2 separate regions of the Homo sapiens genome follow, and region 2 is linked to region 1. Evidence: fine-mapped expression QTL. A gene starts in region 1. The other region holds a variant in brackets. All regions are shown on one strand. Distances are from middle to middle. Region 1 holds the start of ALG5 (ALG5 dolichyl-phosphate beta-glucosyltransferase). Region 2 has its middle 3.8 kb from the start of SUPT20H.

What was found. PIP is the estimated chance that this variant, and not a neighbour inherited with it, causes the effect.
Region 2: its variant is fine-mapped to the expression of ALG5 in whole blood (TOPMed, PIP 0.98).

The regions. Positions count from the first base shown.
Region 1 is chr13:36,996,388-37,001,769 of GRCh38, forward strand. It overlaps ALG5 (ALG5 dolichyl-phosphate beta-glucosyltransferase), which reads right to left and starts at 2,953. Exons shown (of 10, transcript NM_013338.5): 1 at 2,848-2,953. The coding sequence starts at 2,913. EXOSC8 (exosome component 8) reads left to right here and starts at 4,399. Exons shown (of 11, transcript NM_181503.3): 1 at 4,399-4,435. The coding sequence starts at 4,419. RefSeq lists a silencer at 2,869-3,168 and enhancers at 3,629-3,678, 4,139-4,228, 4,429-4,688, 4,909-4,968.
Region 2 is chr13:37,060,833-37,066,214 of GRCh38, forward strand. No RefSeq gene overlaps it. Among named protein-coding and RNA genes, the nearest start is that of SUPT20H, 3.8 kb to the left of the region's middle. The variant C/T (reference allele first, on the strand shown) is at 2,720.

The DNA of each region.
Region 1 (5,382 bases):
AGGTTTGATCTTTGAGGTCTGATCTTTACTGCCATCATCAACTACTATCACTTCAGAGATTATAAGATTATAATCAAAGATTATCAAAGATTATAAGGGCTGTGCTGAAAGGACAAAGTAGTCAACCTGAATGGGCTCTCAGTGGCCTATGATGCAAGAATCTGATCGTCCTCCCACTTCCCCCCTGCCAAAAAAAATTACTGCAATGGATCAAACCATGAAAAATACTGTAAATCATAAATTTGCAATGATACTAAAGACAAAAACTGGGTAAGATGCAGGAAGGATCTCATTTCAAAAATTTGCCTTTTGCGTTTTATATGTATGAAAGGTATTTTAGGGTAAATGAATAGCTGAGGATGAGATTTCTTTCATTACAAAACTCTAGGTAATAAATGAAGGATACAATGAGAATATTTCACTTTGCAACCCGCAATGAAATAAAGCATTTAGGTAATGATCCTCAATGACTACTAAAACCATTAGGCTGATGACAAACTTTATAAACTGGTGGGTCTGGCTGGCAACATTTGAAACCACAGATCCATCTTAACACCAGAGACAAATGGCCATTACATGACTCCTGATGAGACACAAGAGAAAGGAAGAAGCATCACTCACAATTTTTTCTTGATTAAAAAACACATCGAGTATGTATGTGATCAGGTCTCTCCATCCTAACTACCAGTTTATAGAAAATTTGAGATAGAAGATGTTAAAAGGCATTAAGGGGATGCAATCAAAGAAATCCAAATTGTGAGAAGTTCTACAGGACAAATGATCATATTAAAGACAAGGAAAAAGGCCGGGCGCGGTGGCTCATGTCTGTAATCCCAGAAGTTTGGGAGGCCGAGGAGGGTGGATCACCTGAGTTCAGGAGTTCGAGACCAGCCTGGCCAACATGGCGAAACCCCATCTCTATTAAAAGTACAAAAATTAACCGGGAGTGGTGGTAGGCGCCTGTAATCCCAGCTACTCAGGAGGCTGAGGCAGGAGAATTGCTTGAGGGCAGAGGTTGCAGTGAGCCAAGATCACACCACTGCACTCCAGCCTGGGTGACAAGAGCCAGACTCCGTCTCAAAAAAAAAAAAAAAAAAAAAAGACAAGGAAAAGAAAAAAAGGGGGAGGAGAAACTGTCAACTGATTAAGAGACTCAAGACATCAACAGAGTACAATGTGTGGCACTTGTTTGGATCCTGATTGGAACAAACAGACATATATACTGAGACATATATGAGACAAGTGAGGGCAAGTGAACTGAGGGGGCATTTGAAATCACAGAATAAATTTAAATCTGTGACCACTTTATTGTGGTATTTTAAAAAGAAGGACCTTATCTGTTAGAAATAAATGCTGAGGATTTAAAGATAAAATGTCTTCGAGTTGTTTTAAAATAATTCAGAAAGGAGGTGAGACTGTGAGTAATGGAGAGTGGATACATATGAAGACAGGATGAGGTTTTGAAAAATTATTTTTTTAATGATTTCTTGCTCTGGCATTTAAAAAACCTAAGTTTCACTAGTTGTGCAACATTTGAGTACACGAGCTCATTTCTCCAACATGTTTCCTCACCAGTAAAATAATGCTAATGATAACATATATGTCACAGTGTTAAAGATTTAATAACTCCTATTAAACCAAGTGCAACACAACATATAGTAAGTACTACAATCAATAAATGGTAGCTCTTATCACTTCAAGCTAGTGGGAACAAATACCGTCAGTACAATCCCATAAAATCTGTGCAAAAGACCCAAAGTAAGGCAGCTTCAATCTAAGAATGTGTGAATCCACTCCCCGCCCGCACCCCGCCAAAAATCAATCAATCAATCAATCAATCCTGGTTTGCTCAAAAACTTGAAAAAACAAAAAAGCCCTAAACCCTGAAATCTCTACTAGTTAGGGCAAGAGAGGACTCCTCTCTCACCCAGATACTATCAACAAAGAAGTAAGGATGCATTACATTTTATCTAAACTGTAAATTTATACAACCTCTGGAAAGATGGCAGAGTGGCCTTCCTGGCAGTGCTGTCTAGGTGGCTAATCTGAATGTCAAGGAAGCTGAAATCCTCTCCACTTACTAACTAGAGGGCAGGCTCATTCCAAGGTGTGCGGGAGAGAGTTCGCCAATTTTCTACCACTTAACAATCAGCAAGTGTTTACAATGTTTTTGTGTTTCGAGAGCAAGGGCAAAGACAATCGAGTTTGCATTCTATCGTCCTGCCTTGTTTAGGGGCAGTATATTTAGGGTGCTTAATTCTGGGACACAATGCGACCCCGGACAAGGCGCCTGAGGCCTGTCTCTCTCGCTCACCCTGCGTCCCTAGTGGGTCTCATCGATCCACGCATTTATTCCCATTTGTAACAGATGGCTGCCGTCAAGGCTCCGTCACCCCTATTTGCTTAACCACATCAGCCAAGGGAGCAGGCTAGGGAGCACACCCCTTCTGGGGGCTCGAGACCTCCCTGGGTGGAGCAGAACTGCAGCGGCTGCAGGTCCCGGAGAGTCTGGGAGAGGTCGAGGTTGACAGAGGAGGTGGGTAGGGGGCGCGGGCGCCAGGGGCGATGGAAGCGGCGATGATGCCAGGCCGGGTGGGTGCGCTCCAGTGTGAAAAAACTTACAAGTCTCTGAGCACACAAAGAGATAAGATTCCAAGGGAAAATTAAAGAACCGAAGAAAAGGAGAGTGAAACTCCAGGAAACTCCGAGGTCAGGAATTTGGGGGAATCTAGGGGAAAAGGGACTTCTCCGAGAACTGGTAGCGCGGAGGAGGGGACGCCTGAGGAGCCGCAGTCTCCAGGAGAGCGGTAAGCCCCGGCCTGCGCGGGTTCCCATCCCTGTTCTCACCAGTACGAGGGCTGCGGCCGCCAGCGCCGCGCCGAGCACCGCCAGCTGCAACAGAAGCGGAGCCATTCTCCATGCCGTGGCAGCCCGCCCAATCCCGCACCTCCACACAGGCGGAAGCGCGCCCGCGCGACCCGGCCCCGCCGCCAGAGAGGTCGCGCCCGCTGGCCGCAGCGCCCCCGCGTGGCGAGGCGGAGAAAACGCCGCTCTCGTGCCCTCGGCGCCCAGTCGGTGGAGAGGAGCGCTAGGTTCCACAGCGGGGCGCCAGGTTTATCAAGTATGCAAGACGTCTACTTAATTTGAATTTCAGATTAAAAAACTAATCATGTTTTTAACAGCCTTATTAAGATAGCCACATACCATACGACTCATCCAGTTACAGGTTTCTGGTTTATTACATTAGTTTTTATAAACTGTGGTAAAATAAAAAGTTGCCATTTTAATCATTTTAAGTTTACAATAGTGAGTGGCATTAATTACATACATACTGTGCAACCATCACCACTATCTATCTGTAAAGCCTTCCCAGCTCCCTCCAGGTTCTGGCAACAACTAATTGCATGCTCTATTTGGGGCATACTCATGCTTTAAAAAAAAAAAAACCCACAAAAAAACAAAAACAAAAAACAAAAAAACCACGCTGTGTTTATCAGACATTCAAATTTAACGTGGTATCCTGTATTTTATCTGGTAACCCCACCTAGGAGGGAGATGGCAGCCTTGAGCACGACACAGTCTACAACACAAGGTGATGCTTAGGAGCCCTCAGCTCCGGGACCTGCAGAGCAGAACGTGGTGCGGACAATGAGCGCACAGAAAGTTCAGGTTTCTCGGCCGAGCGCCGTGGCTCACGCCTGTAATCCCAGCACTTTGGGAGGACGAGGCGGGCGGATCACAAGGTCAGGAGATCGAGACCATCCTGGCTAACACGGTGAAACCCCGTCTGTACTAAAAATACAAAAAATTAGCGGGGCGCGGTGGCGGGCGTCTGTAGTTCCAGCTACTCGGGAGGCTGAGGCAGGAGAATGGCGTGAACCCGGGAGGCGGAGCTTGCAGTGAGCCGAGATCGCGCCACTGCACTCCAGCCTGGACGACAGAGCGAGACTCTGTCTCAAAAAAAAAAAAAAAAAAAGTTCAGGTTTCTCATGTGTTGGAGCACGGAGCCCTTGACCAGTGAAGAGGCAAGGCCAGGGCTGAGCCTAAGTCACAGGCAGAAAAAAGACGCAGAAACATTGGAATAACGCTCCACACGCACTGCTTGATTCTGCGCTAGAAACCCTGTTATCTCCGAACTGTTGGTGTTATTCTGAGTCACAGCACCAGCTCTTTTATAAAGAGGGAGACCCGCTCCTTCTTTAACAGCAGATTCGTCAAAATACGTCCAAGGCAAGGAAACCTAGAAAGGCGTCTGGGCAGGGGAAAGTCGATGCGAGGGCGGGCCAGGGACCTTTCGTCGCGTCCCCACCTTGGCATTTCCCGTGGCGTGAGCGGCCCCGGCATCCGTGTCGAAAGTGCGGCGGCGGAACAGGCGCGCAGGAGAGGAGCGGCGCAGGCGCAGACGCGCGGGCGGGAAGATGGCGGCTGGGTTCAAGTGAGTGTTGGCGGGTGGCGGGTAGAGTTCTGTACCCTGGCGGACGGCAGCTTCCTTTAACTCTTAGCTGGGATTCTCTCACCTGGAGGCCGACCCCGTTGGGGTGCCATTTCCTTCCTCGTCGAGGCAGACGATGGGCGGGAGGACCTGGAGGTTGTCACAGTGAAAAGAAAGGGCTTCTTCCTCAGTGAGACGGGAGATGAAAGGACTCTGTAGAGTTCCATACCCGCTGCGAGCGCTCGTGAGCGTGGTGTGTAGTGAACGTGCAGTCCCAGGAGACATAGTTGTAATCTTTTAAAGATTGTGGCCGGGCGCGGCGGTTCACGCCTGTAATCCCAGCACTTTGGAGGACGAGGCGGGCGGATCACCTGACGTCAGGAGTTCGAGACCAGCCTGGTGTACATGGTGAAACACTGTCTCTAATAAAAATATAAAAATTAGCCGGGCGTGGTGGCGGGCGCCTGTAGTCCCAGCTACTCAGGAGGCTGAGGCAGGAGAATCGCTTGAACCCGGGAGGCAGAGGTTGTAGTGAGCCGAGATCGCGCCACTGCACTCCAGCCTGGGCGACAGAGTGAGACTCTGTCAGAATCAATCAATCAAGATTGTTGCATCAGAACCACATACCGCCTGCTTCTCCCTCTCCCGTAATTTATTTCTAAAAGGATCATGCCTCGTTTGGAAGGTTTTTGTGTGTGTGAAGCCAGTGGACTTTCTTAAAGTTTTTAAAAAATGGATAAAATAAATAGGATTCCAAAGGAAATCCATTATGTTGAAATAGTTATCTATGAGTATAAACTCCGAAGACACGATATAGTAGTATATATACTTGGTTTAAAATTAACCTTCGTAAACAAGATCTAGTGGCGAGACTAGTAGTAACTCCTGGGATTTCAAAGTAACGGTGAGCCTGAACATACCTTACACAGCTAAAGGGTGCAAACGAAAAC
Region 2 (5,382 bases), 64 kb after region 1:
ACTGATGGACATTTGGGTTGTTTCCACTTTCGGGCTATTGTGAATAGCAATGATATGAACATTTGTATACAAGTATTTGTTCGAGTCCCTGTTTTCAATTCTTTTGGGTATAAACATAGTGGAACTTCTGGGTCTTATAGTAATTCTACGTGAAAATATTTGAGGAACCCATAAACAAATGTTTCTACAGCAGCTGAACCATTCATTTTACATACCAAGAGCATTGTCGGGGGATTCCAATTTCTCCACATCCTCACTAACACCATAATTTTCTATTCCTTTGATAGTAACCATCCCAAAGGGTATAAAGTGGTATTTTATTGTGGGTTTGATTTGCATTCCCTAATGGCTAGTTATCTTGAGCATCTTTTCATGCCCTTGTTAGCCATTTGTATATCTTCTTTGGAGAACTCTCTATTCAGGTATTTCCCCATTTTTAAATTGAGTTGTTTGTGTTTTTGTTGTTAGTTATGTGTAGTCATATATTCTGGATATTAGACCCTTATGAGATATATCATTGGTGGATACTTTCTCCCATTCTGTAGGTTGTCTTTTCACTTTCTTTGTAATATCCTTCAGTGTACAAACCTTTTTAATTTTGATGAAATCTAATTTATCTATTTTGTTACTTGTGCTTTTGGTGTCATCACCAAGAATCCATTGTGCAAGCACACTAGCTTTCATGTCTCTTCTTATGAGTAACTAATTCTATTGGATAAGGGCCCCACCTTTATGATCTTCTTAAACCTTAATTACCTCCTTATAGATCTTATCTCCAATACAGTGACATTGGGGTTTGGGGTTACATATATGAATTTTGTGGAGATATAATTTGGTCAACAGACTTCTGTACCCCTGCAATTCATGTCCTTATTGAATACAAAATACATTCATACCACTTCAACAGTCTCAAAAGCATCAACTCTAAAATCTGAAGTCCGAAGTCTCTTCTAAATATCACCTAAAACAGATAAGGGTGAGACTTGAGATATGATTCATCCTGATGCAAATTTTCTCCCCAGCTATGAAACTGTAAAACCAGGGAAGTTGTTTGCTTCCAAAATACAATGGCAGAACAGGCATAGAATAGGCATTCCAAACAAACAAACAAACAAAAATAGGAGCAAGAAAGGAAGGAAATAAAAGAAATAGGCAAAAAGGAAGGGATGACAGGTCCCAAGCAAGTCCAAAAATCTAGCAAGGCAAATTCTAGTAGATTTTAAGGCTCAAGAATAATCCATTTTGATTCAGTGCCCTGCCTTCCAGACCTACAAGGGTGGTGGCCCTGCCTTCTGGACCCTAGGTGGATGCTATACCTCTCCCCACACTCTGCCAGGCATGCTCTTCCAGGCAGAGTCTCATCCCAAAAGTTTTGCTAGGTAATGGCCTTGATAACATCTGAATTGCTTTGAGGTCATTCTCCCCTTTTCTTAAAGAATAGCACAAGTTTGGCCAGGTGCGGTGGCTCACGCCTGTACTCCCAACACTTTGGGAGGCCAAGGTGGGCAGATCACGAGGTCAGGAGTTTGAGACCAGCCTGGACAACATAGTGAAACCCCATCTCTACTAAATATACAAAAATTAGCCTGGCCTGGTGGTGCATGCCTATAATCTCAGCTACTTGGGAGGCTGAGGAAGGAGAATCACTTGAACCTGGGAGGTGAAAGTTGCAGTGAGCTGAGATCCCGCCATTGCACTCTAGCCTGGGCAATGGAGTGAGAATCTGTCTCAAAAAAAAAAAAAAAAAGGAATAGTACAAAGTTAGCAGCTGGATAGCTCTATTGTCCTGTCCTGTAGAATCTAGGACATGTAAAAGCCTTCTGTCATTTTTGTCTTGTCTGCATCCCCTTCAGTTGAAACAGGCAGTGTTTCTGCTCATATAATCTCATCATTTATTTATCAAATGATAGTCTAACCATACCTTTGGTGTTTTCTTTAGAATGTACTTTCTCATTTTCTGCAACATGACAGGCAGATAATTTTCCAAATATTTGAGTCTTGGTTCCTTTTTGCTTAATAATTTCTTCTTTCATTCATCTCTTCTTGCATTTTACTATAAGCATTCAGGAAGATCCAGGTCGCACTTTCAGCATTTTGCTTAAAAATCTCAGTTAAATATTCAATTTTATCATTCACAAATTCTGTCTGCCAGAAAACACTAGAAAACAAGTCAGCCAAGTTATTTGCTACTTTATAACAAGGACTGCCTTTCTTCTGTCTTCCAGTGACCCATTCTTCATTTCCATCTGAGACCTCACAAGAATGGCCTTTAACAAACATATATTTACCAAAATTGTGTTCATGATTATGTTTTCTCTAAGAAGATGGAGGCTTTCTCTTCAACTGTATTTCTGAGTTCTTACCAGAATTGCCTTTAACATCCATATTTCTAGCATGGAAATCTAGGCTTTTTCTAGCATGCACCTCAGAATTCTTTCAGCCTCTACCCATTACCTAGTTCCAAAACCACTTTCACATGTTTAGGTTTTATTAAAGCAACATGCAACTTCTTGGTAGCAAAATCTATCTTAGTTTGCTCAAGCCGCCATAACAAAATACCATAAACTGAATGGCCTAAGCGACAGAAATTTATTTCTCATAGTTCTAGAGGCTGTGCAGTCCAAGATCAAGGTGCTTGCCAATTTGGTTTCTGGTGAGGGCTCTTTTACTGGCGAGTAGATAGCCACCTTCTTTCTGCATTCTCATATGATAAAGGAAG[C/T]GGGAGAAGGAAAGGGAAACAGACAGAGAAACACACAGAGAAAGATATCTGGTCGTTTTTGTTGTTTTTTTTTTTTATAAAGATACTAATCTATAGCATCAGAACTCCACTCTTGTGATCAATTTAACCTCAGTTACCTTCTTATATAGGTCCCATCTCCAAATACAGTGACACTGGGGGTTTGAGCTTCAATATGTGAATTTTGAGGGGACATATTTAGTTCTTAGCAAATGCTATTATAAATGAAATTGTTTTTAATTTTCCAGATTGGTGATTGCTGATGTATAGAAACACAATTGATTTTGGGGTATTCTCTTAGTCTATTTTCTGCTGCTGTAACAGAATACTACAGACTGGGTAACATATAATAAACAGAAGTTTATTGGCTCACGGTTCTGGATGCTGAAGATTCTAAGATTGAAGGGCTAGCATCTGGTGAGAGCCTACTTGGTATGTATGTTATCCCATGGTGGAAGGACAAAGAGAGGGCTAGAGAGCAAGGGATCAAACTTGAAGCCTCAAGTTCTTTTACAATTGGCATTAATCTATTCATGAGGGTGAGACCTCATGACCTAAACAACTTACATTAGGCCTTACCACCCAACATTGTTGCATTATGGGTTAAGTTTCTAGCACGTCCTTTGGGGGGATATATTCAAACCATAGCAAGTGTTGGCCTTGTACTCTGAACATTTACTTATTAGCTCTATTAATTTTGTATGTGTGCCTACATGTGTATATTCTTTAGGATTTCTATATATAGAATCATGTAATCTGTGAACTGAGATAGTTATACTTTTTTTCTCCCAATTTGAACACTTTCATTTCTTTTCCTTGGTTAATTGCTCTGACCAGAGCCATCCCTTCATTTTAAATATTTTGCTCACGTGATTATGGAAGCTGGCAAGTCTGAAATCTGTTGGGCAGCTGAGTAGGCTGGAATCTCAGGCAAGAGTTGATGCTGCAGTCTTGAGGCAGAATTTCTTTTTCTCTGAGTAATCTCAGATTTTGCTCTTACAGCCTTCAGCTAATTGAATAAGTTCCACCCACATTATCAAGATTAGTCTCCTTTACCTAAAGTCAACTGATTATAGATATTAAATGTATCTTCAAAATACCTTCACAGCAAGACCTAGATTAATGTTTGATTGTGTACTGTAGCCTAGAAAAATTGACATGTAAAATTAACCATCACATTCAATGTGGTAGATAGTAGTGTTAGTTCACAGGATTTTAAAACATTTTTATTTCTCACTCTCCTTCCCATGGCTTCAGTGTGGGCACAGTATACTTCCTCATGGTGATTTTGCATGTGGCTATGTGACTCATTTTGGCCATTGGAATATGAACAGATCCACTAGCAGTTGAGGATAACTAGATGGGGTCTTAGAGAGAAGCAGAAGACATGTGTGTTCTGAATCCTCTGACTGTGTGTGTGTGTGTGTATGTGTGTGTGTGTGTGTGTGTGTGTGTGTGTGTGTGTTTGTAAGCAATGATACAGAGTCCAATTTGAAAGAGCTCCTACTGGCAAAAGAAGGGACACTTGGAGCATCAAGGAGAATCAGAAAGATTTTTTTGACTGAAGTAGTTTGAAATATATCAAAAATTTCAAAATACATAAATTTCAATGCTTTTATTAAACCTCTCACTGGTCACATTGAGGATTGCTAGGGCACTAACTCATTATTCTGAAATTGCTTTTAAAAAGTTTTTAAACCAAATTTTTTGCTTTCCTACACAAACTGAAATTCAGAGTAACCAAAGAGTTGATAGGGGAAAACTTTATTTTTTATTTATTTATTTTTTTGAGACGTAGTTTCACTCTTGTTGCCCAGGCTGGAGTGCGGTGGTGCAATCTCGGCTCACTGCAAACTCTACCTCCTGGGTTTAAGTATTCCCCTGCCTCAGCCCCCTGAGTAGCTGGGATTACAGGCATGCACCACTACGCCCAGCTAATTTTGTATTTTTAGTAGAGACAGGGTTTCACCATGTTGTCCAGGCTGGTCTTGAACTCCTGACCTCAGACGATTAACCCGCCTCAGCCTCCCAAAGTGCTGAGATTACAGGCGTGAGCCACTGCGCCCAGTCTGGGAAAATTTTTTAATAGAAGAATTCCAGTGAATAAATAAAAAAGTGATAGAATATCACCATTTTGCAACCTGTGAGAAAATAATACTTCTAGGGAATAATTACTAATGGTTACCAAATAACCAAATGGGTAGAAGGTTGAAAGGAAACTTAATAGTGATCCACTTTATGTATGTGCTATTTATGTGCTATGTACTATACTATATAAATAGTACTTTATAGTATTACTGTTTATGAAATTTTTTTTTTACAAAATCCTAAATCTGAATTTAATCAAGCCTCTAGATCTAACTGCCAGTTTACTTGAAAAAAAGAGGCACAGAGTAACATGTTAAGTGATCTTTCAGTGACCAACAGTGGTGGTGGAGGAGACCCACCCAAGTCTGGCTGTGTTGGGTACTTGTGATGCAAATAACTCATGAGGAGCCTTGCTTTCCTCCTCTGGTGCTGTCAGGGCTGTTACCTTGAGCTCCCCCTACGTTAGTGGGTCCTCGATTTTAGAGTTGAAAGCTTGGCTGCCTGGCTGTGCTCTGAAAGAAATTATTTTCTTATGAGTATCACTCTGTTCCTCCTTC